4 linked regions of the Homo sapiens genome follow. The protein of the gene in region 4 purifies or fractionates together with the protein of the main gene of each other region. This does not show direct contact. Each region holds a gene or a part of one and is shown on either strand. Other genes may lie near its edges. The genes, in order: NAA25, KIF14, CCT6B and RHOF.

Region 1 (7,024 bases), 9.7 Mb from region 4:
GGATAGGCATATGTGTTTAGAGTATCCTGGCCTCCTCTTGATAGGGTGTATCACTGTCCTTTAATCAAGCTAGAAGGTATACTCGAGCTTTTTCAGGTAGTCCTTCTTGAAACCTGCAGGATCACAAGTAATCTTTTTAATTTTCTTGTGTCCGTCCGTCTTTAATTTCTCCAGATACTGCAGGCAAACAGCTCGCCGAGGTGTCCCATGGGGGTTTAAAAGCCGCATCGAATGCAGTTGAATTAGCGCCCGTGGCGCAATCCCGCGGCCTGAAATGAACCCTGCAAGGCTGTATATCAGAGGGTATGTTGTTGACTATTGGCCTATTTTCCTACTGGGCAAATTATTCAGACGTAATGGAGATGGGGGCAGAGCTGATTAACTGAGGCTGTGTAAAAAGACTGTTTTTTCTAGAAAGGATCTTTTTTGGGGGCAGACATCAGCTTTGAGCATAATAGTTTCCTTGGCCCAAAGGGGTAATCTCCTGTCTTCTGATCCTGATGGCATAGACCCACACCCATGAAATGTTCTTCCCTGAGATTTTCTTCTATTGTGCCAGAATTTCTGCTTAGAATTCTTTATCTTGCCTCTGTTCTGTAATGTTTGATCTCTGTATATGTATTAAGCTACAATTAAAGCACATGTGGTGAATGTTCCCTTCACATACTTGTTTAAGGAAATTTCCAGCAGAGGTCTTACGTAATGTAGATGGACAAGAAACTTGGTTCTTGAAGTCTTTGTCCTCAGAATAGATTATGACATGAATTTTGATAGGTCTTTTGTTTGGTGTCTTACTTCTATCCTGACGTAATGCTCATATGCCCTGTGTTTCTAATACAGTATTCAGAAATAAGCAAAACCAAGGAGCAGCCTGTCTTTTTCTGAAGGAGAGTGGTTTTTATTTGGGGGGGCGGGGGGCAGGTGGTTCTATTATTCTGGTGCTTTTGGAACCTTTGTATGAAACACAGTTTATCTTAGATGCAGAAAAACATGGAGTAACATCCCTTCCAGAATGGCACTAACCAAATTTTTGACTGATGTGGCAAAACAAAACCTCAGTTCCTATTGAATTGAAAGACATGACTGCCAAGAGAAGGCTTATGTGATGGTGGCAGAAGCTGGTTATTACAATTAGTAATATTAGTAAAGGAGACATTTGTCTAAAGTATAAGAAGGAAGAAAAACATTTTAAAAAGCTAATATTCTACTTGGTGACCAAGACCTTTAAAGATTAGATTTAAAACTTAATTTTAGTTTGAGTGTTTTGTTTTGGCTGGCAAGGTTTGCTTACATTGCCTGACTTGTGAACTATTTATACCAAGGTGATGTCTTTCCTTCTCAGACCTCAGAATATATTATTCAAGCTTACAAATATGGTGCATTTGAGAAGATCCCAGAGTTTATCGCTTTTAGGAACAGGCTGAATAATTCTCTTCATTTTGCACAAGTCCGTACTGAACGGATGCTGTTAGACCTTCTACTTGAAGCAAATATGTAAGTATTGCATGAGAGCTATAAAGGAACTAAGGGATTAGATCAGTTGTTAAGAGCCATTAATGGGCTCATGGGTGTTATTGGCAGGCTTAAGGTAAAATAGGGGGAAAAAAGGGAGAGAGACAGTGGGGAAACAGAACTTGGCACATGTCATGGGGAATGGTAGAGTACTGCCAGCAACATCTTGAGACCATTACAGAAGCCATTTAGGTCATGGTCATCAATGCCTGGTCCATATTGTGCTTACGAAGGTTCCGCCTCCCCTACAAATCAAGAGATTTCAGGAATTAATGCTGATCCCCTTTGTTTTGTGTGGGCTTCCAGAAGCCTTTTTCTTGCCATGTAGCAAGCCAGTTTGATCTGCGCTTGGTTCTATTTCACCTTATTATGAGCCCTTCCTTCCTCTTTCCCTTCCTGTCTAGTAAAACAGGAAGTCCTGATTAATAATATTTTCTGGCTATTTTACTATTAAAATAATATGTGGATTTTTCTCTATCACAGATCAACCAGTTTAGCAGAAAGTATAAAGTCAATGAACCTTAGGCCAGAAGAAGATGACATTCCATGGGAAGATTTGCGAGACAACAGAGACTTAAATGTTTTTTTCAGCTGGGATCCAAAAGACAGGTAACTGGAATTTAACCCCAAGCAATTTTTAAAGTTTTTGTTTGTTTTTTGTTTTTTTAAAGAGACCAAGATCATAGCTCACTGCAGCTTCGAACTCCTGGGTGAAGCAGTTTATTTTTAAAGAATTAGGTTGGGCTGGGCACGGTGGCTCAGGCCTGTAATTGCAGCACTTTGGGAGGCCGAGGCCGGTGGATCACTTGAGGTCTGGAGTTCGAGACCATCCTGGCCAACATGGTGAAACCCTATCTCTACTAAAAATACAAAAATTACCTGGGCGTGGTGGCGTGTGCCTGTAATCCCAGCTATTCGGGAAGCTGAGGCAGGAGAATTGTTTGAACCCAGGGAGCGGAGGTTGCAGTGAGCTGAGATCGCACCATTACACTCCAGCCTGGGCAACAAGAGCAAAACTCCATCTCCAAAAAAAAAAAAAAAAAAGAATTAGGATGAATCTAAAATTAAAAAAAACAAACTTCACTTTACACAAATATAAAATAACATGTGTTTGTTGTAGGGATCAGAAAATATAGGTAAGCCAAATGAAGAAAGTATAGCTCACCCCTATGCTGGGACTGCTGGTTAATCTAAAAGTTAGATCTACTTCACAGCATATATGAGAATTCCAGATCGATTAAAGACTGTATGCTAAATTCTAGATTCCTTAGAAATTCTAGAAGAAAATATAGAAAATATTTTTAAATAGGTGAGGAAAGCCTTTCCTAGTATTATACCAAATCTGGAAACATAAAGGATTTAACTTCTGTAAATAGAAATAATAAATTTGTTAAGTTCTAAAGGTTTGTAGTAAATTTCTTCATACAAGTATCCTTCATATATAGAGAGAACTCTTAATAAGTCAATAAGAAAATAAGAAATTGGGCAAAGAAACACATCTTACAGCAATAAAGATTTTGTTTCTAGCAAAAAAGATGAATACTTGTGGTCAGCAAGGCTGTGTGGTAAATACTTATTATGCATTTACACAGGGATAAATTTTATACAGTCTTCCTATAGGGAGTTGTAGTGATATGTATCAAGATTTAAAATGCCACATACCATTTAATTTGGCAGATCTGCTTCTAGGAAAGTAGAACCTAAGGAAATAAATGCAGAAACATGCTAAGAAGTGTATATGAGGTAGTTCTGAAAATTCTGTGATTTGTGGGTTGCCAAGGCCACATTCAGTGATTTAGGATTGTTGAGTCCCAGAAGGATTCACAGGGCTGAGCATATAGTTGCACTCAACGGCTAAGGTTTATTACAGTGAAAGGACACATGACAGAATCCGGAAGGGAAAAAGGAACAGGCACAGTCGGGAGAACTCAGACTTCCAGTGCTTTCTCCCTCCTCTGAGGGGAAACACTGAGTATGCTCCTTTCTCCAGCAGGGAAAAATGCAGTAACACAGGTGGAATGTTCCTGCTCAGGGAAACCCAGTAGAGACTTGGTGCTTAAGGTTTCATTGTTATGTGGGTACACTCTGTCTATCCTGAGTGGAAAGAAAGCAGGTATTCACCATAAACAACATGGTTTATATAAACAATCTAGGCACAGCGAGTCACTCTTACCATTTTAGGGAACAGTTGGAGTGCAAAGTTCCCAGACATCAGCCAAGGGCCAACCTTGCAAGTAGGCCTTTCTAACGATAATAGCTGCAGGCCTGCTATGTTAACTCTTTTCTACACATACTGTCATAAAAAGATGAAGTTTGCAAAATAATGTAATTACTGTAACCAATTTGTTTAAACTTAAGTTGCATACATACTATTTTTAGTTACTTTTTTTTTTAGATGGAGCCTCTGTTGCATACTGTAACCAATTTGTTTAAAATTGTTAAGTTGTGTAAGTATTATTTTTAGTTACTTTTTATTTTTGAGACCTAGTCTGTCTCTGTCGCCCAGGCTAGAGTGCAGTCGCATGATCTCGGCTCACTGCAACCCCCACCTCCTGGGTTCAAGGGATTCTCCTGCCTCAGCCTCCCAAGTAGCTGGGATTACAGGTCCCTGCCACCACGCCCGGCTAATTTTTGTATTTTTAGTAGAGATGGGGTTTTGCCATGTTGGCCAGGCTGATCTCAAACTCATGACCTCTGTTGATCCCCCCATCTGGGCCACTCAAAGTGCTGTGATTATAGGTGTGAGCTATCGCAACCAGCCCCTATTTTTTTTTTTTTTTTTTTTTTGTGATGGAGTCTCACTCTGTCGTCCAGGCTGGAGTGCGGTGGCGCAATCTCGGCTCACTGCAACCTCCGCCTCCCGGGTTCAAGCAATTCTCCTGCCTTAGCCTCAGCTGGGACTACAGGCGTGTGCCACCACGGCCGGCTAATTTTTTTTGTATTTTTAATAGAGATGGGATTTTACTGTGTTAGCCAGGATGGTCTCGATCTCCTGACCTCATGATCTGCCTGCCTCGGCCTCCCGAAGTGCTGGGATTACAGGCGTTAGCCACTGCACCGGGCCACACCCGCTATTTTTAGTTAGACTTTTATACATCCACATTACAAAAGTCTAAAAAGATCTATACCAAACTTGATAATACTGTGAGTATTGGTTATCAGGGCACCTTTTCTACGTTTTACATTTTTCTATCATTTGCATTTTTTATGTTGTGTATTATTTTTATTAGAGACAGGATCTTACCCAGGCTGGAGTACAGTGGCGTGACCATATCTCACTGCAGCCTTGAACTCCTGGGCTCAAGCAATCCTCCAATCTCAGCCTCCCTAGTAGCTGGGACTACAGGTGTGTGCCACCACGTCCAGCCAATTTTTTGTATTTTTTTTTTTTTTTTTTTAGAGACTGGGTCTTGCTATGTTTACCAGGCTGTTCTCCAACTCCTGGCCTCAAGCAGTCTCTCACCTCAGCTTCCCAAAGTGCTGGGATTACAGGTGTGAGCCACCACACCTGTCCTCATGTATTATTTTTATAATCAGAGAACAAAGTGTCACTTATAAGGAAAATGACCTGTTTTTTTTGTTTTGTTTTGTTTTGTTTTGTTTTGAGATGGAGTCTTGCTCTGTCGCCCAGGCTGGAGTGCAGTGGTGCAATCTTGGCTCACTGCAAGCTCCGCCTCCCTGGTTCATGCCATTCTCCTGTCTCAGCCTCCTGAGTAGCTGGGACTACAGGCGCCCACCACCACGCCCGGCTAATTTTTTGTATTTTTAGTAGAGACGGGGTTTCACCGTATTAGTCAGGATGATCTCGATCTCCTGACCTCGTGATCTGCCCACCTCGGCCTTCCAAAGTGCTGGGATAACAGGTGTGAGGCACCGTGCCCAGCCAAAAATGACCTGTTAAATAGGTTATCATTCCCATTTTATTGATAGTGAAATGGGGTTTGAGAACATTTTGGCTTGTCTTAGGTCATTCAGCTAGTAAATGAAAGCTGGAACCCTTCAAAGGCATCTTAACTGGTGAAAGTTAACTTTAAATGATTTGAGGCCAGGCGCGGTAGCTGACGCCTGTAATCCCAGCATTTTGGGAGGCCAAGGCAGGCAGATCACGAGGTCAGGAGATCAAGACCATCCTGGCTAACACGGTGAAAACCCGTCTCTACTAAAAATACAAAAAAAAAATTAGCCGGGCGTGGTGGCAGGCGCCTGTAGGCCCAGCTACTTGGGAGGCTGAGGCAGGAGAATGGCATGAACCTGGGAGGCAGAGCTTGCAGTGAGCAGAGATAGTGCCACTGCACTCCAGCCTGGGCGACAGATCAAGACTCTGTCTCAAAAAAAAAAAAAAAAATTGAAAGCAATGGATTGAATATTGAATAAGTTAGATAATTTGGGGATGTTTCTGTTTAAGGGACGTTTCTGAAGAACATAAGAAACTTTCCTTAGAGGAGGAGACCTTGTGGTTAAGAATCCGATCCTTAACATTGAGGCTGATAAGTGGACTTCCAAGTCTCAACCACCCTGTGGAGCCAAAGAACTCGGAGAAGACTGCCGAGAATGGGGTATCCTCCCGGATTGATATTCTTCGTTTGCTCCTTCAACAGCTGGAGGCAACCCTGGAGACAGGAAAGCGATTTATTGAGAAGGATATTCAGGTACCATCAATACATATTTACCATCAAAGTTGCAATAATTATATTTATGACTGTTTTATAAACAGGAGTTTGGGGTGGGTGAGTAGTAAGGAATTGTTTTGTCCCAGTTTATGGCTTCTGCAGGAGAAAGAGGAATATTTTAGACTCAGAGGGAATTGCAGAGGCTTCCTCAATATCCAGACTAGTGAGGGAGAAAGCAAAATAACTTTTTGTGGTGTTAAGTTTTTAATAGCTAGCAACAAATTAATATAAATGTTCTGTTTTTACTGTAATGATTCAGTTATTAGTTTGCTGATTAGTGGCTTTTAGCTGAACCGCTGAGACAGGTTTTTATCTACTAGTTACCTGATTTTCTTATTTTGTATGCATTTAGATGGATTTAAAAGAGCATTATTTTTCTCCCTTTTTTCCAGTATCCTTTCCTTGGTCCTGTACCTACCAGAATGGGTGGATTCTTTAATTCTGGCTGTTCTCAGTGCCAGATAAGCTCTTTTTATCTTGTCAATGATATTTATGAGCTGGATACCAGTGGTTTAGGTAAGTGTACACTGTGTGTTTATAGGGTCTTTGTCATAGAAAATGTAGTACACGTAATAAAATGTCTATAACCTCACATCTGGAAAATTTTAGAGTACATGGAAGCTGGAAGCTGTTCTGCAAATGTGTGGTGTAGTGTATGAGAGGGTACAGTCGTAGGTTACAAAGTAATGTTTTAGAAGCTTAAGTCCATTCCATATTTAAAATCACTTGTTAGGTCCAAAAGTTGAAGAAATTCTTCATTTGTTGAAAGGCTGTTGGATTTTAAAAATGAAGCAGTAGGCTGGGCGCAGTGGCTCACGCCTGTAATCCCAGCACTTTGGGTG
Region 2 (7,832 bases), on a different chromosome or scaffold from region 4:
AAAAAAAAAAAAAAAAAAAAAAAAAAAAACCTTATGTAAACGGGTAAAGACATGTGGATGGGTGTGGAATTATTCATGAAGCTACAACACTGAAGAAAAACTCCCCTCTCTCCCCTCTAGAAAGACTGAGATGATGTATAATTCTTGCAATCCAGGTGGCTTCTTACTTGACAGTTGCCCTTTTATACCCACGAACATGAGAAGCAATTACTTGACACAATCTTTTTTATGCTGTTTTTTAAATTAGAAAATTGATTTATGTGAATACACAAACTAAAAATTGATTATAAAAACAACTAAACATGTGTCATTCTAGGCAATTCTAGGCAGCCTAGACACTGCTAGTATTGACATGTACCACCGAAAAGAAATGAGATTATGAACTATTTTGGGGTTAGTACAGACAGCTGAGTGATTTGTACATACTCAACATTCTTATTGAGATCACCTAATACCTCTCTGTAAATTTGTTGAAAAGTAAGTGACTTGAAGCTTTTCATTATCCATTTTAGGAAAATACCTACAAGTCTACTTGGAGGAATCCCCAGCATTTTCAACAGGATGTCAGAATGACCTTGGGCTATGTTGGCAAAGCACAATGGGAAGAAGACAACCAATTGAAGGTCAAACTAGGCCTTAAAAAAAATTGTTCTTCCTAAATGAAACTTTATGTAAGACCCAAGCTTCCTTTATGTAAAAATAGGATACTCACTAGGCTTTGGGGCTGACAATGGTTTTTAAATCTTGCTAATCTTCCCTGGAATGAAACCAGCATGACTCAAAGAGAAAAAGAGAGTCTATAATATTTTCTAATCCCTGAGTTCTTTTCTTTATATATTAAAAAGGATTACTAGGCTGGGTGTGGTGGCTCACGCCTGTAATCCCAGCACTTTGGGAGGCCGAGGGGAGTGGATCACCTGAGTTCGAGACCAGCCTAACCAACATGGAGAAACCCTGTCTCTACTAAAAATACAAAATTAGCCAGGCGTGGTGGCGCATGCCTGTAATCCCAGCTACTCAGGAGGCTGCGGCAGGAGAATTGCTTGAACTCGGGAGGCAGAGCCAAGATCGCACCACTGCACTCCAGCCTGGGCAACAAGAGTGAAACTCTGTCTCAAAATAATATTAATGATAATAATAATAATAATAATAGGGATTACTTGCATAATTGTTCTTTTAAAATTATTGGCAGTATTGCTGAATGTATTTAGATTTTTTCACCAAGTGACAACAACTGAATTCATAAAGATTCATCAACAAGACCTGATAAAAAAAAATGTAAGCATATTATAGTGGATACTTCCAAGACTCTTGGTCTAACATGTATTAGAAAGCAGAAGGAGCCCAGGCACAGGGGCTCCCGCCGGTAATCCCAAAGCTTTGGGAAGCCAAGGCAGGTGGATCGCTTGAGCTCAGGAGTTAGAGACCAGCCTGGGCAACATGGTGAAATCCCGTCACCACAAAAAAATGCAAAAATTAACTGGGCGTGGTGGCATGCACCTGTAGTCCCAGCTACTCTGGAGGCTGAGGTGAGGGGAATCACCTGAGCCGGGGGAATCACCTGAGCCCAGGGAAGTTGAGGCTGCTGTGAGCCATGGTCATGACACTGCCCTCCAGCCTGGACAACAGATTGAGACCCTGTCTCAAAAAAAAAAAAAAAAAAAGAAAAAAGAAAAGAAAGAAAAAGAAAATTAGGGCCGGGCGCGGTGGCTCACGCCTGTAATCCCAACACTTTGGGAGGCCGAGGCGGGTGGATCACGAGGTCAGGAGATCGAGATCATCCTGGCTAACATGGTGAAACCCTGTCTCTACTAAAAATACAAAAAATTAGCCAGGCGTGGTGGCGCATGCCTATAGTCCCAGCTGCTCAGGAGGCTGAGGCAGGAGAATGGCGTGAACCCGGGAGGCAGAGCTTGCTGTGAGCCAAGATGGCGCCACTGCACTCTAGCCTGGGCGACAGAGCAAGACTCCGTCTCAAAATAATAATAATAATAATAATAAAAATAAAAAAAAGAAAATTAGAAGGAAAATACAAAATATGACAGATTTTAAAATACCTTTAGGTTCATGCAGTTTGTTTAACTCTTGTCCTTATTATAAAGCCATAGACATTTGAGATCCAGAAAGAATCTGTAAAAACTGTTGTACAGGGTAGTGGTACAGAGCACAGGAAATGGTGTTTAATTTCCTGAGTTCTGAACCTAACTCTGTGACCCAGTAGTTGTATAATGTCAGGCAAGCTATTTAACTCCTTGGAAACCCACTTTCCCTCATGTGTAAAACAGCGATAATCATAATACCTATCTTATAAGGTTATGGAGTTAGGTTATTTATCTTGCACAAAGAAAGGACTCAATCCTTGCTGGTTATGATGATTTAATCCAGCACTTTCGTTTCACAAGCGAGGGATCTACAGTAAGGAGACTTATCTCTGGTCTCACCATTAGGTTGAGACAGATCCTCAGCTAGAATCCAAAGTGCTCTTACCACTTTTCCACAACTTTTGCTTTGTCCTTTGCATTTTAAAATTATTAATTTCCTATTGCACCTTTTCGTTATAGACCCCAAGTGCAACTAGATACAAACACCAGGAAAATACATACCACATTTTAATAATTTAAAAATTGTGAAATTTGCTAAATTGTAATAGATTTAATCTTAGGCCGGGCGCAGTGGCTCACGCCTGTAATCCCAGCACTTTGGGGGGCTGAGGTAGGTGGATCACCTAAGGTCGAGAGTTCGAGACCAGCTTGACCAACATGGAGAAACCCCTTCTCTACTAAAAATACAAAATTAGCTGGGGTTGTGGTGCACGCCTGTAATCCCATCTACTCGGGAGGCTGAGGCAGGAGAATCGCTTGAACCTGGGAGACGGACGTTGCGGTGAGCCAAGATCAAGCCATTGCACTCCAGCCTGGGCAACTAGAGCGAAACTCCGTCTCAAAAAAAAAAAATTTAATCTTAAGAGATCATTAATTAGCATGAGTTAATCATTTTTCTTTAAATCTTACATAATCCAGAAAGCTTCAAACGTGCCAGTTTTACTTCGACTCTTTCCACGTTTTCTTTCTGTTTGTCTCCCTCTGGTGGATTTAAAAAAATACTTGCTTTATTCTATTTATGAGCTTATTTTCCTTTTAAAATTGAAAAAGGTCTTTATGTCTTCTGTCATGTTTAATATATATTTCCAGTTACATTTTATTTTTATTATTTTGAATTATACATATGTTTAAAATTTTTATGTATTTGAGTTTGTCTGTCTTTTCTTTGACATATCTTGCTTTGTTTCTAAATTGAATGATCATTTTCCCATAGATGTGATAACTTTTTTTTTTTTTTTTCTTGAGACGGAGTTTCTCTCTTGTCCCCCAGGCTGGAGTGCAATGGCGCGATCTCGGCTCACTGCAACCTCCGCCTACCCGGTTCACGTGATTCTCCTGCCTCAGCCTCCTGAGTAACGGGGATTACAGGGGCCCGCCACCACGGCTGCCTAATTTTTGTATTTTTAGGAGAGACGGGGTTTCACCATGTTAGCCAGGCTGGTTTTAAACTCCTGACTGCAAGTGATCCGCCTGCCTTGGTCTCCCAAAGTGCTAAGATTACAGGCGTGAGCCACCGCACCTGGCCCTGATAAATATTATATTCTATTTTCTGATAGTTTCCTTATACCTTAATTTTAATTGAGTTTTAGAATGATTTTTAGAGTAAGATTTAGAATGAGTACTTTATCATCTGTTTGGTTGGTCTATATAATTGGAGCTACTTATGGTCTCTATCTCAGTGAATACTTCTTCAATATCTCTGTACTTTTTGCCTGTTTAAAAAACATTGTTGCTTTACAATATCTATTTATCTAGTCTTTCTCATTTATTTGGTTATTTTTCAGAATGTATTTGTAATATTTTTTCAGATTTCAAAATCTTATGGGGGCTGGGCGGCGCAGTGGCTCACGCCTGGCAGCTTACAAGGTCAGGAATTCGAGACCAGCCTGGCCAATATGGTGAAACCCCGTCTCTACTAAAAATACAAAAATTAGCTGGGCGTGGTGGTGCGCGCCTGTAATCCCAGCTACTCCAGAGGCTGAGGCAGGAGAATCGCTTGAACCAGGGAGGCGGAGGTTGCAGGGGCCACTGCACTCCAGCCTGGGCTGCAGAGCGAGACTCCGTCTCAAAAAAGAAAAAAAAAATTAAAAAAAGGGAACTTTTACTGAAACGGAGTTACATTGTACGGCGGCAAGAACCTTCAAGTTCTAGTTATGCCACTGCTAATTGTCTGATCTTTCACAAGTTTAACTCTAAACCTCAGTTCCTCATCTGTAAACGAGGGATAACATTAATATTTATCTCACAAGATTTTCAGGACTGTTTAAAAATTCATATAAGACATTTAGCATATTTCCTACGTGAACGCCTTGCATAGGAAACACTAGAAAAGTTAATTATTATGATTAACTTGGGGGCAAATATCCATTTACAATGTGAAGTCTTCGATGTAATGGCTTCTTTTAGATTAAAGACCGACAAGAGTGTCACTGTCATGCTTTTCGTTTGACACCCACTTCAACGAGGGGCCCGCTGCGCCCGCGACCGCCGCCCCTTCCTCTGGTCGGATTTAAAGGGGGCCAAGCTCCACGCTTTAGCAGAACCCGAGGAGGGGAGGGAGCGTTGCCTGGGAGATGAGGGTGGGGCGAGTCCAGCATTCAGAGACGGCTACCGGAGCCCAACCACCGGCACTTCCGGGGGGCGGGTGGAAGCAAAGGCGCGGCACCCGACGCGACGCCCAGCAGCCAATCAGAAGGCGGGGCGCCCATTCAAATTGCGGCCTTCTGGGGAGCCGGCGCTGGAGGTGGTGAGTGGCGTGGGGACTGTGTCGAGGGGGTCCCCAAGGTGCCGGACCCTGCGGAGGGGCGAAGTTTCGGCACTGGGGAGGGCGTGCGGACGCTTTCCCTACAGGCGACCACTGCTCTGCGGGCGGGTGGTCTTAGCTCCAGTCCCCCATTCAGTTCCTCAGCATTCCAGGTCGGCGGCGAAGGGGTCCCCGAACGAAGGGCGCAAGGCAGCGTCTCTGCTGGGACCGGGAAGCCGGACTTCAGGGCCTCTCGGCCCGTGGGCTTCTCCCCGAGTCTCCCCGAGTCGGTTGGCATTAAGAGGTAATTCTTAGTCATAGCCCCTGGTAATGACTAGCAGAGAAAGAACAGAATCACCGGATGTTTTGGTTTGGATTGTGCTTATTTTCCTTGTATTCCTTCCAGTCCTCTTTAAAATCTGATGGCGAAACTCCTCAAACAGAAACCGTATTGATTTGTGCAAATCGCAAATGGTTTTTAGTTGCAAGAGAATTTCCAGAATCTTCTTTTTGCCTTTAAATTCATTTCATAACAGGAAAATTCTGTATTTTGAGTTGAAACGTTGATGGGAGATGCTTATAAGCTGACGAATTTTTTTTGTAATGACTGTTATTTATGTAAAAATTTAAAAGCCTCATTTAAAAATGAACTTCCATTAATTTGTTCCTCGCTAGCAATAATCTTTGCAATAGTTTGAACCAGTGTCATTTTACAGGTTAGAACCCGGCATGCAAATTTAAAGTCTTGTTTACATCCTTGTAAGGAGTTGGATACAAAGCTGACTAAAAGCCAGGTCTCTTAGCTGTCACTGCTGTTCCCTTTCTTTAAAACGTTAATACCTGATAGATATTGTTGCTGTATATTTACATACACCTCTGTCTAATTTGTTGTCTTACTGCTAAAGGGCAGGTTGTCTGTTTATCTAATCTTGCATGGTTTTTCTCAACACAATTAATTTACAGTACTTATCGTACTTACTGCCTGTGGTACTTGGGAATAATCTGCCTCGTGACACCAATCAATTCAATCTTCTCTATAGGCATTCCTGTATTCAACATACATGGGCCGGACGCGGTGGCTCACGCCTGTAATCCCAGCACTTTGGGAGGCCGAGGCGGGCGGATCACAAGGTCAAGATATCGAGACCATCCTGGCCAACATGGTGAAACCCCGTCTCTACTAAAAATACAAAAATTAGCTGGGCATGGTGGTGGGCGCCTGTAGTCCCAGCTACTTGGGAGGCTAAGGCAGGAGATTTGCTTGAATACAGGAGGAGGAGGTTGCAGCAAGCCAAGGTCGTGCCACTGCACTCCAGCCTGGTGACAGAGCAAGACTCCATCTCAAAAAAAATATTTTTATAAAAATAAAATAAAATAAACCTTCTTATGGAACATTGGCAAAAAAAAAAAATACGTGTAGCAGGTATTTATAAAAATACTTTGCTCCACACTCTGATTTAGGTGCTAGGGTTTCCTTTAGTCCTTCCCATTCCCCACACTGGAAGTACTTGAAAATCTATGTTGGCATGCACTTTTTACATCTTCTAAGTCACTTGACACATTTGGCCTGATATATGGCTTATCAGTATATTTCTTCTAGACTAAAGAAATGGGAATTGTATTCTTGTCTTTGAAGTCTACAGTATCTATCAGAGGGCCTGGCACTAATGGAAACTTAGTCAATATTTGTTGAATAATGATGGTAAGTTCTCTGAGAGACTTGCCTGAAGTTGCTTGGAAGCAGTATCTGAGCTGCAGATTGTGATCTATTGTAATGTATGCCTCTGGGAATTTACTTACACAATGGGATGTTCTCTCTATATTTTTAAAGCTTGTTTGTAGTCTGTGTGATCTAAATCTTTTTTTTTTCTTTTAGTTTAGCAGATACTTTCAGAAATGGATACATAAGAAATGGCTGGAAATCAAATGAATGTCCAAAGAAGAGCTTAGGGTCTTAGTAACATTCTTTTTTAAAATAACTGTCTGCCAAAATGTCATTACACAGTACTCATAATAGAAATAACAGCGGTGATATTCTTGATATTCCTTCTTCCCAAAATAGTTCATCACTGAATGCCCTCACCCACAGTAGCCGACTTAAGCTGCATTTGAAGTCGGATATGTCAGAATGTGAAAATGATGATCCATTATTGAGATCTGCAGGTAAAGTCAGAGACATAAATAGAACTTATGTTATTTCTGCCAGTAGAAAAACAGCAGACATGCCCCTTACCCCTAATCCTGTAGGTAGATTGGCACTTCAGAGGAGAACTACAAGGAACAAAGAATCATCTTTGCTTGTTAGTGAGTTGGAAGACACAACTGAAAAAACAGCAGAAACACGTCTTACATTACAACGTCGTGCTAAAACAGATTCTGCAGAAAAGTGGAAAACAGCTGAAATAGATTCTGTCAAAATGACACTGAATGTGGGAGGTGAAACAGAAAATAATGGTGTTTCTAAGGAAAGTAGAACAAATGTAAGGATTGTAAATAATGCTAAAAACTCTTTTGTTGCCTCTTCTGTACCTTTAGATGAAGATCCACAGGTCATTGAAATGATGGCTGATAAGAAATACAAAGAAACATTTTCTGCCCCCAGTAGAGCAAATGAAAATGTTGCACTTAAGTACTCAAGTAATAGACCACCCATTGCTTCCCTGAGTCAGACTGAAGTTGTTAGATCAGGACACTTGACAACGAAACCTACTCAGAGCAAGTTGGATATCAAAGTGTTGGGAACAGGAAACTTGTATCATAGAAGTATTGGGAAGGAAATTGCAAAAACTTCAAATAAATTTGGGAGCTTAGAAAAAAGAACACCTACAAAATGTACAACAGAACACAAACTGACAACAAAGTGCAGCCTGCCTCAGCTTAAGAGCCCAGCTCCATCAATACTGAAGAATAGAATGTCTAACCTTCAAGTTAAACAAAGACCAAAAAGTTCCTTTCTTGCAAATAAACAGGAAAGATCCGCAGAAAAT
Region 3 (7,024 bases), on a different chromosome or scaffold from region 4:
ATACACGAGAAAAGGCAATTCGGTGGTGAAAGTAAAGTCTTTTCAGCAAATAAGACTAAAACAATCTGATACCTTTATATGAAAAAAATGAACTTGTATCCATACTTGCACCATATACAAAATTTAACTTAAAATGAATCACAGACCTAAATGTAAAACATAAGACTGTAACACTTTTAGAGGAAAATCTTTATGACCCTAGGTTAGGTAAAGATTTTTCAGATACCACACCAAAAGCATAATCCATGACAGAATAAAAATAATAAATTAGACTTCATCAAAATTAAGAACTTCTCTTTGAAAGGCACTGTTAATAATAAAATAAGCCACAGAGGAGAAAAATTTGCCAATTATATATCTGAAAAAGCACTTGTACCCAAATTATATACAAAGAACTCTCAAACTCAACAATAGTATACTAACACAAATTTTTTTCTTTTCTTTTCTTCTCTTTTTTTTTTTTCTGGAAACAGGGTCTCACTCTGACGCCCAGGCTGGAGTGCAGTGGTGTGATCATAGCTCACTGTAACCTCAGACTCTTGGGACTCAAGTGATATTCCTGCCTCAGCCTCCTAAGTAGCTGGAACTACAGGTACAGGCCACCACGCCTGGCTATTTGTGTGTGTGTGTGTAGAGGCATGGTCTTGCTATGTTGCCCAGGCTGGTTTCCAACTCCTGGGCTCAAGCAATCCTCCCATCTTGGCCTCCCAAAGTGCTGGAATTACAGGTGAGAGCCACTGTGCATGGCCAACAATCCAATTATTTAAAAGGGCAAAAGATTTAAACAGAAAATTCACCAGATATACAAAGGGCAAATAAACACATTAAAAGATGCTCAACATGGGCTGAATGTGGTGGCTCGTGCCTACAAATCCCAGCACTCTGGGAGGCTGAAGGGGGAAAACTGCTTGAGGCCAGGAGTTCAAGACCAGCCTGGGCAACATAGACAGAACTCATCTCTACAAAAAAAAATTAAAAATTAGCCAGGTGTGGTGGCATGCACCTATCGTCCAGCTGAGGTGGGAGGATCACTTGAGCACAGGGGTTTGAGGCTGCAGTGAGCCATGATTGTGCCACTGCACTCTAGCCTGGGTGACAGAGCAAGACCCTGTCTTGAGAAAAATATATATATGTGAGGTTTGCAGCCAGGCGCAGTGGCTCATGCCAGTAATCCTAGCACTTTGGGAGGCCAAGACAAGTGGATCCCTTGAGCCCAGGAGTTCAGGACCAACCTTGGCAACATGGTGAAACCTCATCTCTACCAAAAATACAAAAATTAGCCAGTTTCAAAACCTGGTCTCAAAAGAAATAAATAGATTAAATAGATTAATAATAAAAATAAAATTTAAAAAGACTTAAAGGCCAGGCATGGTGGCTCACACGTGTAATTTCAGCTCTTTGGGAGGCCAACAAGGGCAGATCGCTTGAGCCCAGGAGTTCGAGACCAGCCTGGCCAACATGGCGAAACCCCATCTCTACTAAAAATACAAAAAATTAGCCAAGTGTGGTGGTGTGTGCCTGTAATCCCAGCTACTTGGGAGGCTGAGGCAGAAGAATCACTTGAACCTGGGAGGCAGAGGTTGCAGTGGGCTGAGATCGCACCACTGCACTAAAGCCTGGGCAACAGAGGAAGACTCTGTCTAAAAATATACATATATACATACATAGGTGTGTGTGTATATATATATACATATATACACACATATACATGAGGTTCATATCAATCACAAGAAAGAGCTTACCATCTTCAATGGCATTTTTGATAGCACGAAGTCCATCTCTTATGGCATCCTTGACTTGTGTGAGAGTATGCTTATTTGGTCCTTTAACCAACAAGGTAACAGAGCAAGGGTTAACACACTCCTCAATAAAAGTGAACTTTTCTTCACCCTAAAGGGTGGCACAAAAATATATAACTTTAATATTTGATGTCATTATAAAATCAACAATTTATACTAGAATACAATCTTCATTTGAATTTTTCTTATCAAGCATAACTAAGGGAGTTAAGTTATATCTGAACTCTTAACAAACATTTAGGTAAATAAACTGTAAAATCTGTTCTGTGAATTAGATCTCAAAACACAAAACATGAAATAAAAGGTCAAGTAGTATTTTTCTTTAAAAAAGGGGGCTTAGTATTCACTTTATAACCACTGTTCATAGAAATACTCACTAATGTATACTCATACACAAGACCAGCATGTCCCAAGCAATCTACAGTGAGATCTTCAAAAGAATTCACGGCCATTCCACCACAAGCAAGAGAGAGTCTGAAATTACATATATGTCACCATAGCTTGATTATGGAGAACATTAATACTAATTTCTCAGAGAGAAGATATCTAATGCAGAAGACTGTATTGTTACTGTATTGTATTGTTTTGGGTTTTTAATTGTCTAATAAAATTGTCTATATTTATCGAGTACAACATGATGATGTTTTTAAATATGTATACACTGTGGAATGGCTAAATTGAGCTAATTAACATACATATTGCCTATGTGAGGCTTGATTTAGCCATTTGTGTGATAAGAACACTTAAAATCTACTCTCAGCATTTTTCAAGAATCCAACACATTGTGCATTCTCGGGTGGGTTTGCAAAAGATTTTTAAAAAGAACAATATATTGTTATTAACTACAGTTGCCATGTTGGACAATAGATCTCTTGAATTTATTCCTCCTAACTAACTGAAATTTTGTATCCTTTGACCCACATATTCCCAGTGCCCCTCCCCTCCCACTGCCCCAGCCCCTGGTAACCGCCATTCTACTATCTACTTCTATGAGTTCAACTTTTTTAGATTCCATATATAAAAGTGAGATCATGCTGTATTATGTTGTATTGTTTTGTTTTTAAAATCTGTTTTAAAAAGATAAAAACTTTCCTTATACTTCAACAAAGTTCTGCAGTAGGTTAACAACCTTGCTTTTTGACAGTTCAATTATTTACTGAAACTAAAAACAAAATTTGGATTTTTTTATGCCACTGTTTTGTTCAACAACATTTACACATAAGCTAAAAGGAAAACACATGGGATAGTTTCCATTTACTCTGTTAAAAACTTAGGATATATAATTATCTGCAAGCTTACCTTTCCATATTTCTTCTTTTTGCTCTGCGAAGAGCTACTATTCCATGTTTTGCAAGAGAATCTAAGGAAAATGGATCAATTCCCTATAATCAAATTAACATAAAAATTATAAACATGTTTTAAACCAGTATTTCTCAAACCTTTTGGTCTCAGCACCACTTTACTCTCTTAAAAATGATTAAGCACCCAAAAAGCTTTTGTTTATGTAAGCTCTATCTATAATATTTGTATTATAAAAACTGAGAAATTTTTAAAATATTTATTAATTCATTTAAATAATAAGCCCATTTTATGTTAATACACATAACATTTTAAATGAAAATTTACTACACTTTTGAAAACAAAAATATATATAGTGAGCTAGCAGTGGCATTACTTTACATTTTTGCAAATCTCTTCAATGTTTATCTTCATAGAAAACAAATGGATTCTCATATCTCATTCAGTATTCAATTTGGAATGATATGTTATTTTGGTTCAAGTTTATGAAGAAAATCTGGCCCCACACAGATAAATATTGTAAAGGGAGTAATATTTTAATAGGCTTTTCAGATAATTATGGAAATTCTTCTTTGATACTATACCAAAACTCAGTAAGTAATAGTTTCTCAAAGGTTAGTTTCACTATGGAACCATAGCAATGAACTTTTCATACTATCTCACATTAAAACACATTGCTGTAACTTGCACACTGAATGGATTATTTATCCATGTATGATTTTATAAAAATCATGCATTTTTAGTCATGTAGATAGCATCAGTTCACTGAGTTAGGCAAAGTTTCCACATGTTGACACATTTCATATATAAAATGTTGTGTTATACATGTAGAAACTGTGTCATGTTATGCATGTGGAAACTTTGCCTATCTCAGTGAACAAAAACTCACATTTGTTAATATCACTACTATTATCAGGAAAGTCTTTTAAGTATTGGAAAGCTGTCAAGTTCACATGGCAGATACAAGTTTTCTGAAATTCTAATTTTTTAAAAAAGTTCAAATGTTATTGACAACAAATACTGTCAGTTGTTTTAAGTCACAGAATTTCCTCATTCATTTTTGAGAGAAATCTACCAAATACCCATATCTAGATAACCACAGTTTGTCTGTCAGTCATTCTTCCAGGTAAAAGTGGCATTCCATGAAAAAGTGGCTAGTTTACCTTGCAATTTAAACAATTACACAAGTGCTCTCCTTCAAGACAACCATCATATTTTGGTATGCAATAGAAGAGCTTTGAAGTTCCCAGCCCCATAATCCCAACACTTTGGGAGGCCAAGCCAAGAGGATCACTTGAGACCAGCCTGCACAACATGGCAATACCCAGCCTCTACGAAAAAACTTAAAAATTAGCCAGGCATGGTGATGCACACCTGTAGTCCTGGCTACTTGGGAAGCTGAGGTGGAAAGATCACTTGGGCCCAGGAGGTCAACGCTGTAGTGAGCTATGATGGTGCCACCCAAGCACTCCAGCTTGGATGACAGAACAAGACCCTGTCTCAAAAGAAAAAAAAAAAACAGTGCTTTGTGCATACTTCATATTTTGTCACACATAATAATAAAAGGATGCATATTTCAGAATCAAAATTTAATAAATTAATAAGTTTTACCACTTCATCAAGACACTCTTAAATGATACTGCCTTTTTTTTTTTTCACTGTAAGTTTGCAGTGGTATAGCAATAAAGAATGCGATGACTACTAGTATAGTTTGGTGCTACTTCTTTGACTTGTACTAAGGTGCCAGCAGTTTTACAGATTGCTTTTGCAGCATCATTGCAAATGTCAACACAATGTAAAAGGTGTAATTATTATTATGAAAATAGTTTTTGACCTCACAGACTCTCTGAAAAAGTCTTAGGGATTCTTAGGGGTCCACAGACCACACTTCAAGAAATGCTTAAGAACATTTACAAATAACTAAAATCTAAACTTTCTTTCTCACCTTTTGATTAATGACGACAAATCCTTTATTTGACTGAGCACAGACTTTGTCCTTCAGGTCTATTATTTTTTGTACTCTATCTTCAATAAATTTTCTTTCAGCTTTTACCAATTTCTCTTTCTCTTCTGCAGTCTTATAAAAGAAACCAGAGTTCACCTCTCTAAAAGATTAATAAAAACCAGCTAGTAAAGGCAGGAGGAAAAAGGAAAAAAGATAGAAGTAGTCTACACCAAACATCTGGAAGGAAAAAGAGATTTTAAAACACCTTTAGAAAAAAAAATTCAAAAGTTATAAAGAGAAAGTAACACGCACGTTTTTTCATATTCCAGTGAAACGTTGCAAATAAGGATAAATGCATCTTCTACTCGCTTCTTCATATCTGGATGACGGGCACCATGATCCAAAACTAATCCTTGGATCAACCTATTAAAAATATTAATGTTTCTTACTTTGAATATATACTCTAAAATTTGGTATAAAATTATCATTGTACTATTAAAGTTACATCAATACTTCCAGGACACACATTGTTTCCTTGTACCAATTTTAACAGTTTTTGGTGTTTTTGTTTTTTGTTTTCAGAGATGGGGGTCTTGCTATGATGTCCAGGCTGGCCACGAACTCCTGGGCTCAAGCAATCCTCCTGCCTCAGCCTCCCAAGTAGCTGGGACTAAAGGAGTGCACCACCTCACCCACCTCCTTGCATTGACTTTAAACCTAACATATAATTAGTAAAATTAGGAAAGAGAATCTACTTTAACACAGTGTGACTATGAAGTCACAATAAAAAGTCAAGCCAGAATTATTTTCTAAGTTATGTGATTCAAAAATATGACACAGCTTATCAAGTAATGAAAGGTACGTATACAATGAGTTTCTTAGGAACATTTATTCAAAATGATTATATGGAACAACTAAAAATTGTTAACCTAAATGTCCAACAATAGGGTATTATTCAGCAAATAATGACCCAACTATTTGATGGTTATAAAAAGTATGTAATAACATGGAAAAATATTTATAGGGCTAGCTGATAAGCATAGAATGACAAATTGCATATGAAGCATGCCTATAACTGTTCTTTTTAACAACAGACAAGGAAGGGGAACATCACACACCGGGGCCTGTTGTGGGGTGGGGGAAGCGGGGAGGGATAGCATTAGGAGATATACCTAATGTTAAATGATGAGTTAATGGGTGCAGCACACCAACATGGCACAAGTATACATATGTAACAAACCTGCACGTTGTGCACATGTACTCTAAAACTTAAAGTATAATAAAAAATATAAATAAATAAATAAATTTAAAAAAAAAAACAACTTGGCATTAAAAAGAAAAAAAATGGGAGGGACCTAAGAGTAGGGGTTATGCCTGGGTAGTAGGAATATAGATGATTTGGAAAGGAGGTGTTTCTTCCTGTTTTCCAAATAATCTTTCAAGAGTCAATATTTTTATAACTTTATAAAATTCATTTACAAAACATTCAGGGGATGGAATTTCTACTTATGAATCCTTTATAACTAATTTTTGTTATATATTTTTAAACTATTTTAGTTCAACATAATTATAAGGAAGTTTTCAAAATTTTACTTTAACTAGATTACTCCACCTCTTAACAGAATGTAAACATATCTAGAAACAATAACACTATGTTCAACATTCCTCACTCTTCAAGCCTCCTTCACTTTCCTCCCTCCCTACTGTCAGCAAATGACATTGTTTCTTTGAGAAAATAGAAACATTGTCCCATTACTACCTCTACCAATCCACTTGCACTTGACCCTGAACCTCCTACTACTATGAATGAGCTGTCCATGTTCCTCTCTATGGGTAGCCTCTCTACTTGTGTACTGGATTCCATTTCCCTCTCTGTTCTTGCACTGTCCCCTAGTCCCCTATATCAATTCTCACCTAAAGAACCATCCTTACCAGCATACAAACTTGCAGTAACAATTCCTATCATTAATACAAAAAATCC
Region 4 (7,024 bases):
GAGATGGGGTTTCTCCATGTTGGTCAGGCTGGTCTCGAACTCCCGACCTCTGGTGATCCACTCACCTCGACCTTCCAAAGTGCTGGGATTACAGGGATGAAATTTTTGTATTTTTTAAGTAGAGATGGGGTTTTTGCCATCTTGGCCAGGCTGGTCTTGAACTCCTGACCTCAGGTCATCCACCTGCCTCGGCCTCCCAGAGTGCTGGGATTATAGGCATGAGCCACCGTGCCTGGCCCCTATTGCCCTTTGCATAAAATCCAAACATCTCCCCTGGTTCACATGACTTCATCGCCTGCCACACCCGCTTGCTCACTGCAGTCCCGCCAAGGCACCATCTCACTGTTTCTCAAACCCACCAAGCTCTCATGTCCCAGCCTTTGTGCTTGCTGTTCCACATGCCAGGAAGGTCCTTCCCTCATTTCTCTTTTCACCGTTTTCTCTCTAGCATTTTATTCTTAAACATCCAGATTAACCATCTATATTTTTTCCCTTTTGAGGATAACTGCCTGCCCTCTGCGACTGCCTTTATAATAATACATCCTATACTCTATGCAGTTTTCAGGGTGCTTTAGTCTAGAAATGGTTAAGAAATCCTTGGTGAAGCGTGGTGGCTCATGCTTGTAATCCCAGCACTTTGGGAGGCCGAGGCAGGGGGATCACGAGGTCAGGATTTTGAGACCAGTCTAACCAAGATGGTGAGACCCCGTCTCTACTAAAAATACAAAAATTAGCTGGGTGTGGTGGCAGGTGCCTGTAGTCCCAGCTACTCCAGAGGCTGAGGCAGGAGAATTGCTTGAACCTGGGAGGCAGAGGTTGCAGTGAGCCGAGATCGTGCCATTGCACTCTAGCCTGGGTGACAGAGCAAGACGTCGTCTCAAAAAAAAAAAAAAAGAAAAAAAAATCCTTACATGACAGCCAGATATGGTAGGGAAATGATGAATACTCCCACAACATAGGAAGAACCTGAGAGTCACAGAAATGAAGTGATTTGCTTGAGGTCAATGACTCAGTGACTGGGCCAGGAGTCAACCCCAGCTCATGAAATTCCAAGTGGGATGTTCCTTCTGCTGATACACACTAACGTGCTATTTTGTTTTGTATTGTGCAAAAATAGGTTCTGGTCCTTTAAGATGTAACAATGGGGTTCACAGTTCTGGCATAACTTATTCCCTTTTACAAATATGGCCGGAGTGAACAGGTACATTAGTCCCCCTAACCCACAAGGGTGGATTCCAAGACCCCCAGTGGATGTTTGAAACCACAGTCTAGAACTCTAGATACGCTGTTTTTTTCTATATGTACACACCTATAAGACAGCTTAGTTTATGAATTAGGCACAGTAAGAGATTAACAACAAGAATAAAATAAAACAGGGCCAGGCACCGTGGCTCACACCTGTAATCCCAGCACTTTGGGAAGCCAAGGCGGGAGGATCACTTGAACTCAGGAGTTCAAGACCAGCCTGGCTTGTTACCGAGCCAGCTACTGACTGACTCACAGGCAGGTGGTGTCTCCAGCAGGGATACACAGAGGAAGGGGCGAATCATATCCCGGGTGGGATGCAGCAGGACAGCGCACGATCTCATCACGCTGCTCAGAGCAGTGCATGATCTAAAATTTATGAATTATTTCTCGAATTTTCCAGGTAATATTTTCAGACCTCAGGTAACTGAAACTACAGAAAGTGAAACCGTGGATAAGGTTATAAAATGGGGCCCCCTTGGACGTCTTCTCTCATTTCTTTTTTTCTTTACTTTTTTTTTTTTTTTTTTTTTGGAGACAGGGTCTTGCTCTGTTGCCCAGGCTGGAGTGCAGTGGCACGATCTCAGCTCACTGTAAGCTACGCCTCCTGGGTTCAAGTGGTTCTCCTGCCTCAGCCTCTTGAGTAGCTGGGACTACAGGCAGGTGCCACCATGCCTGGCTAATTTTTTTTGTATTTTTATTATTTTATTTTATTTTTGAGACGGAGTCTCACTCTGTCACCCAGGCTGGAGTGCAGTGGTGCGATCTCAGCTCACTGCAACCTCCGCCTCCCGGGTTCAAGCGATTCTCCTGCCTCAGCCTCCTGAGTAGCTGGGACTTGACAGGTGCCCGCCACCACACCAAGCTAATTTTTTGTACTTTTAGTAGAGACGGGGTTTCACTGTGTTAGCCAGGATGGTCTCGATCTCCTGACCTCGTGATCCGCCCACCTCAGCCTCCCAAAGTGCTGGGATTACAGGTGTGAGCCACGTGCCCAGCCTTTTCTTTTCTTTGTTTGTTTTGAGACAGAATCTCACTCTATCGCCCAGGCTGGAATGCAGTGGCGTGATCTCGGCTCACTGCAAACTCCGCCTTCTGGGTTCACGCCATTCTTCTGCTTCAAGCCTCCAGAGTAGCTGGGACTACAGGCGCCCACCACCACGCCCGGCTAATTTTTTTTTTATTTTTTTAAGTAGAGACGGGGTTTCACCGTGTAAGCCAGGATGGTCTCGATCTCCTGACCTTGTGATCCACCCGCCTCGGCCTCCCAAAGTGCTGGGATTACAGGTGTGAGCCACAGCACCTGGCCTTTTTTCTGTATTTTTAGTAGAGACGGCGTTTCACCATGTTGGCCAGGCTAGTCTCAAACTCCTGACCTGAGATGATCCACCTGCCTCGGCCTCCCAAAGTGCTGGGATTACAGGCGTGAGCCACCATGTCAGCCAAGGTTGTTCCACTCTCGTCACACACAGCAGAGACAAGGGTTGAGACTTGCCCACTGGGTTTGGCAACTATGGCATGCAGTGACATCAGGACAGGAGGTGGCGGGGCAGGCATCAGGCTGCAGTGGGTGAGGGAAGAAGTCAGCCCCGGGGCGCTGGAGGCAGTCACACCCTGCCTGCCTTTCCTGGGGCCTCTGCCCTTGCTGTTCACTCCTCCAGAAGGCTCTTTCAACAGGGAGCAGTGTGGCTCCTTCCCTCCTCTCCTTCAGGGCTCTATGGAATGTCGCCTCCTCCCAGAGACCTTTCCTGACTGCTCTGAAACAGCTTCCTTGGCAGTCTGCCCCATGACAGTGGCTTTACTCATGGCTCTCACCCCTACCTGATTTCACAATACTTCTCTGGGGCCGGGCGGGGTGATTCACACCTGTAATCCCAGCACTTTTGGAGGCTGAGGCAGGTGGATCACTTGAGGTCAGGAGTTCGAGACCAATCTGGCCAACATGGTGAAACCCTGTCTCTACTAAAAATACAAAAAACTGGCCGGGTATGGGGCCAGGCACGTGTAGTCCCAGCTACTTGGGAGGCTGAGGCTGGAGAATTGCTTGAACCCAGGAGGCTGAGGTTGCAGTGAGCTGAGATCGTGCCATTTCACTACAGCCTGAGGAACACAGCGAGACTCTGTCTCAAAACAAAAACAAAAATCAAAAACAAAAAAAACAGTAATTCTCTGGGTTTTTTGGTTTGCCTCTCCTGCGGGCAGGAACCACCTCTGTGCTGTTCACTGTTGGGTCCCTGGGAACACAGGCGAGCTCAATACCTGTTTGGTGAAGGAAGGCTCAAAGGAAGGAGTGGTTGAAGAGGGTTAATCGTCATCTCTCTGGCTTTAGGTGCCCTGCAGCCTTGGCAAGGGCATTCCACTTCCTGACCTGTGTTCATTCAAGCAGCCACCCTGGGAGGTGCGCTGGGTGGGGACAGTTCTTCCTGTTAAGAACGCAAGTGGTGGAGGGGGCCTTTGTCAAGGTCAGAGACAAGCACCCTGTGAGCCAGAGGCCAACCAGTCCCCAAGGTCAGCTGCCTGCCAGGCCATTCTAAAAGCACCAGTTCTTCCAGGAAGCTGTCCCCAGCCTTCCCAACCGGGAATTAACCTCTGGGCCTCAGTTTTCTCATCTGTGAAATGGAGATGTGAAAAGTGAGCGAGCCTTGATGACAGTCATAATAAAGATGGTTAATATCGACTCTCTTTCTCTCATATAAAAGTCATGGTCTAGACCGGGCGCTGTGGCGCATGCTTGTAATCCCAGCACTTTGGGAGGCTGAGGCGGGCGGATCGCTTGAGGTCAAGAGTTCAAGACCAGCCTGGGCAACATGGTGAAACGCTGTCTCTACTAAAAATACAAAAATTAGCCGGATGTGGTGGCATATGCCTGTAATCCCAGCTACTTGGGAGGCTGAGGCAGGGGAATCACTTGAGCTGGGGAGGTGGAGCAGAGATTGAACCACTACACTCCAGCCTGGGCAACAGAGTGAGACTCTGCCTCAAAAAAAAAAAAAAAAAAAGGGGGGGGGGGCGGGGTTTGCTCTGTTGCTCAGGCTGGAGTGCAGTGGTGTGATCATAGCTCACTCCAGCCTCAACCTCCTGGGCTCAAGCCATCCTCCTGCCTCAGCCTCCTGAGGAGCTGGGGCCGCAGGTGTGTACCACTGTGTTACATGCCAGGTCTAGCTCAAAGCCCTTCACCTGGATTAACTCATCTTTCCCCCAAAAGCCCTACAAGGTAGACACTATTGTTGGCCCCATTTTACAGGCTGAGAAACGGAAGCACAGAGAGCTGGAGTGACTTGCCCCAGGCCACACAGCTAAGGGGAAGCTTTGTAAATAACAGAGGACCTTACTGGAGTATTTTTTTTTCTTAGCCTACCCCAGAAAACAGGAAGGAATCCTCACCCTACTTGTCCCAGCCCTGACCAGGTGAGGAAAAATGTCAGCCCTCTCAAGAAAGAGGGCCTCTGGAAAGGGAGAGGCAGCCAGCTCCGACTCCAGCACCTCCTCCAGGTTGCCTTCCTGGCTTGACTCTGCCCAACCCAGCTTTCCCTAGAATTCAGTGTGGGCCTTTGGGGCGTGGGGGTGGTGGGGGGACCAGGCCTGCAGAGGACTACTTCCGTGTGCACCAACCCCATGCCCACTTGGGGATGGGGGAGCGTACTATTAATAAATACCTTCTCTCATATGAGTCAGGAGGGTCAGGTTCCATTCACTCATGCACATTCTGGGCAGGACTGTTCAGGGCAGCCTCCACATCTCGAATTGACGCCCACATTTCCCTCTCTGGGTGTCAATTTCCTTATCTGGGAGAGGGGGTGATAACAGTGATAACCCTCCCCCTAATCTGGAAGGTGAAAGCCCAGGAGAAGGGAGGCAATGCTTAGAGCGGGAGCAGTGCAGGGGCAGGGGTGGAGTGGGGGGCAGTGCCGGGAGGCAGGAGGACTGCTATTGTGGTTACTGTTGAAACTTCCAGGAGAAGTTAATAGCCTGGCATGGTGGGTGGTCAGAACCCCAGAATCTTTGGACCCAGAAGCTTCAGGGGCCTCCCAGCCACCAGGTGATACCATTACCCTCCACATTCTACCTAAAATGATACCAGGGCTGAAAGGGTCCATGTCACCTGCCCGTAGTCACAGAGGGGGCCCATCCAGCCTCTGCAGATGGGCTTAGAGGTTAAAACAGCCCAGGTAGACCAGGCGTGGTGGCTCACACCTGTAATCCCAGCACTTTGGGAGGCTGACATGGGAGGATCACTTGAGCCCAAGAGGCTGTGGCTGCAATGAGTTATGATCATGCTATGGCACTCCAGCCTGGGTGACAGAGCGAGACCCTGTCTCTAACCATTCCCCACCTCAAAAAAAAACCCAGGAATTACATGCAAAGGATGCACGTGCTTCTGGTGAGGAAGTCTCTAGGCCTGGGCTCCCCCTAGAGCCGCCCATCGTCCTGACGTGCACTCAGGCGGTGCGGCAGGGCTGGGCGGAAGGGAGGCTCATGCCGCACACAGGGCTATTTTCTTGGTGGGATGAGGCTTTGCCAAGGAAGTCCTGCTTCCAGGGACAGGGGTCTCTAAGGCCCAGAGCAGAGTTGAGGAAAAAAGACCTCAAATCTGCAGGAGGACACACAGGGCGGGTGGACCCCAGCTCCAGCTGCGGCGTTGGTCAGGGAGGGGTACTGGCAGCATGAGAAGTGAAGCTGCCAGAAGAGGAACCCACTTTTACTCACTCTGCTGGGGGCCGCCCACCTGTGCTTTCCCAGGGAGACAGGGGCTGGGCAGCCCCAGCTGGGAGTTGAGACCACCTTCTGGGTGACCCCAGCCTTGTCTCAGCCCAGGCCTCCGGTGCTTCTGGGGCTCACAACACACATCTGTCCCTGGTTCCTTGTCTTAGCAAATCCTACTCCATTGCCTAACAATTTTCTTTCTGTTCCCATCTCAGGCTGAAAAGGGGACCACCGCTCCCCGGGCAACCCCTATCCCATCCTGTGCCCCTCTAACCCTGGACCCCACACCTTGGCCCTGATGAGCTCACTCTCCCGTCTGTGTCTTCACAGCCCACCTCACCCCGCCTCCCCCGGCCCAGGAAACTTCAGACTTCACCGCAGCTTCCTGCCTCAGAGGATGTCAGGGCCCCGGTGAGGCCGACAGAGCAGTGAGTGCCATGGCCCCCGCCCCTTCCCTTCTGAGCCCTGCGAGCCCCGTCACCCGATCTGCCCTCCCTCCGCTGTGGTGTCTGTAACTACTTCCTCAGGAGGGAGACAGCCACACGGGCCTTCCACGAGGGCCCCTGTGGGCAGCGTCCGGCCCCTGCCCAGGACCAGCGTTTGGTCCTGGGTGTGGAGAAATTCAGCCTCTGAGAGCCACCCCTGTCTCACAGCTCTGGTGGCCACCAGTCGGGAAGATGCCCCTTCCGCCACTGTGTGTGGCCCATTGGGTTCTAGAACTTTCTACAACTACGTTTACTAGACTCATTTCTGGCTTGGCCATTCCCTCACCCTCTTGGCCTTTGCCTCTCTCTACGTGGCCGCCTGGCCATGGCTTTCTGTCCTGTTCTCCTGAGAGCCGTCCACCTGCAGGCCGAGATGAATCATCTCCGGCATTCGGATCCACTACCCATTCATTCCATCACCTTCCAGGCCTTGCTCCATGACAAGCACTGGGACCTGGGCTCTCCCTGGTGGCACTCACTGACCAGGGGATTTCCTCCTATGAGCAAGCCTTCCCTGGTCACGGGGGGATACCCTACAGGGAGCAGCCAGATCTCTTCTCCCTGGGTGCCCCTCCTTGGGGTCTGTCAGA

What was found.
Region 1: the proteins of RHOF (region 4) and NAA25 purify together in Homo sapiens (affinity purification with mass spectrometry; 2 studies listed by BioGRID and IntAct, with this or other methods). This does not show direct contact.
Region 2: the proteins of RHOF (region 4) and KIF14 purify together in Homo sapiens (affinity purification with mass spectrometry; 2 studies listed by BioGRID). This does not show direct contact.
Region 3: the proteins of RHOF (region 4) and CCT6B purify together in Homo sapiens (affinity purification with mass spectrometry; 2 studies listed by BioGRID and IntAct, with this or other methods). This does not show direct contact.

The regions. Positions count from the first base shown.
Region 1 is NC_000012.12:112,042,762-112,049,785, reverse strand, and holds part of NAA25 (N-alpha-acetyltransferase 25, NatB auxiliary subunit), read left to right. Parts: intron 1-174; exon of another isoform or gene 175-303; intron 304-1,342; coding exon 1,343-1,494; intron 1,495-1,995; coding exon 1,996-2,121; intron 2,122-3,174; exon of another isoform or gene 3,175-5,133; intron 5,134-5,917; coding exon 5,918-6,161; intron 6,162-6,574; coding exon 6,575-6,698; intron 6,699-7,024. UniProt on the Homo sapiens protein: Non-catalytic subunit of the NatB complex which catalyzes acetylation of the N-terminal methionine residues of peptides beginning with Met-Asp, Met-Glu, Met-Asn and Met-Gln. May play a role in normal cell-cycle progression.
Region 2 is NC_000001.11:200,617,728-200,625,559, reverse strand, and holds the start of KIF14 (kinesin-like protein KIF14), read left to right. Parts: upstream 1-4,808; 5' UTR 4,809-5,149; exon of another isoform or gene 5,150-6,721; 5' UTR 6,722-6,836; coding exon 6,837-7,832. UniProt on the Homo sapiens protein: Microtubule motor protein that binds to microtubules with high affinity through each tubulin heterodimer and has an ATPase activity. Plays a role in many processes like cell division, cytokinesis and also in cell proliferation and apoptosis.
Region 3 is NC_000017.11:34,937,441-34,944,464, forward strand, and holds part of CCT6B (T-complex protein 1 subunit zeta-2), read right to left. Parts: intron 5,467-7,024; coding exon 5,356-5,466; intron 5,204-5,355; coding exon 5,044-5,203; intron 3,182-5,043; coding exon 3,099-3,181; intron 2,274-3,098; coding exon 2,177-2,273; intron 1,891-2,176; coding exon 1,743-1,890; intron 1-1,742. UniProt on the Homo sapiens protein: Component of the chaperonin-containing T-complex (TRiC), a molecular chaperone complex that assists the folding of proteins upon ATP hydrolysis.
Region 4 is NC_000012.12:121,783,666-121,790,689, forward strand, and holds part of RHOF (rho-related GTP-binding protein RhoF), read right to left. Parts: exon of another isoform or gene 6,490-7,024; intron 1-6,489. UniProt on the Homo sapiens protein: Plasma membrane-associated small GTPase which cycles between an active GTP-bound and an inactive GDP-bound state. Causes the formation of thin, actin-rich surface projections called filopodia.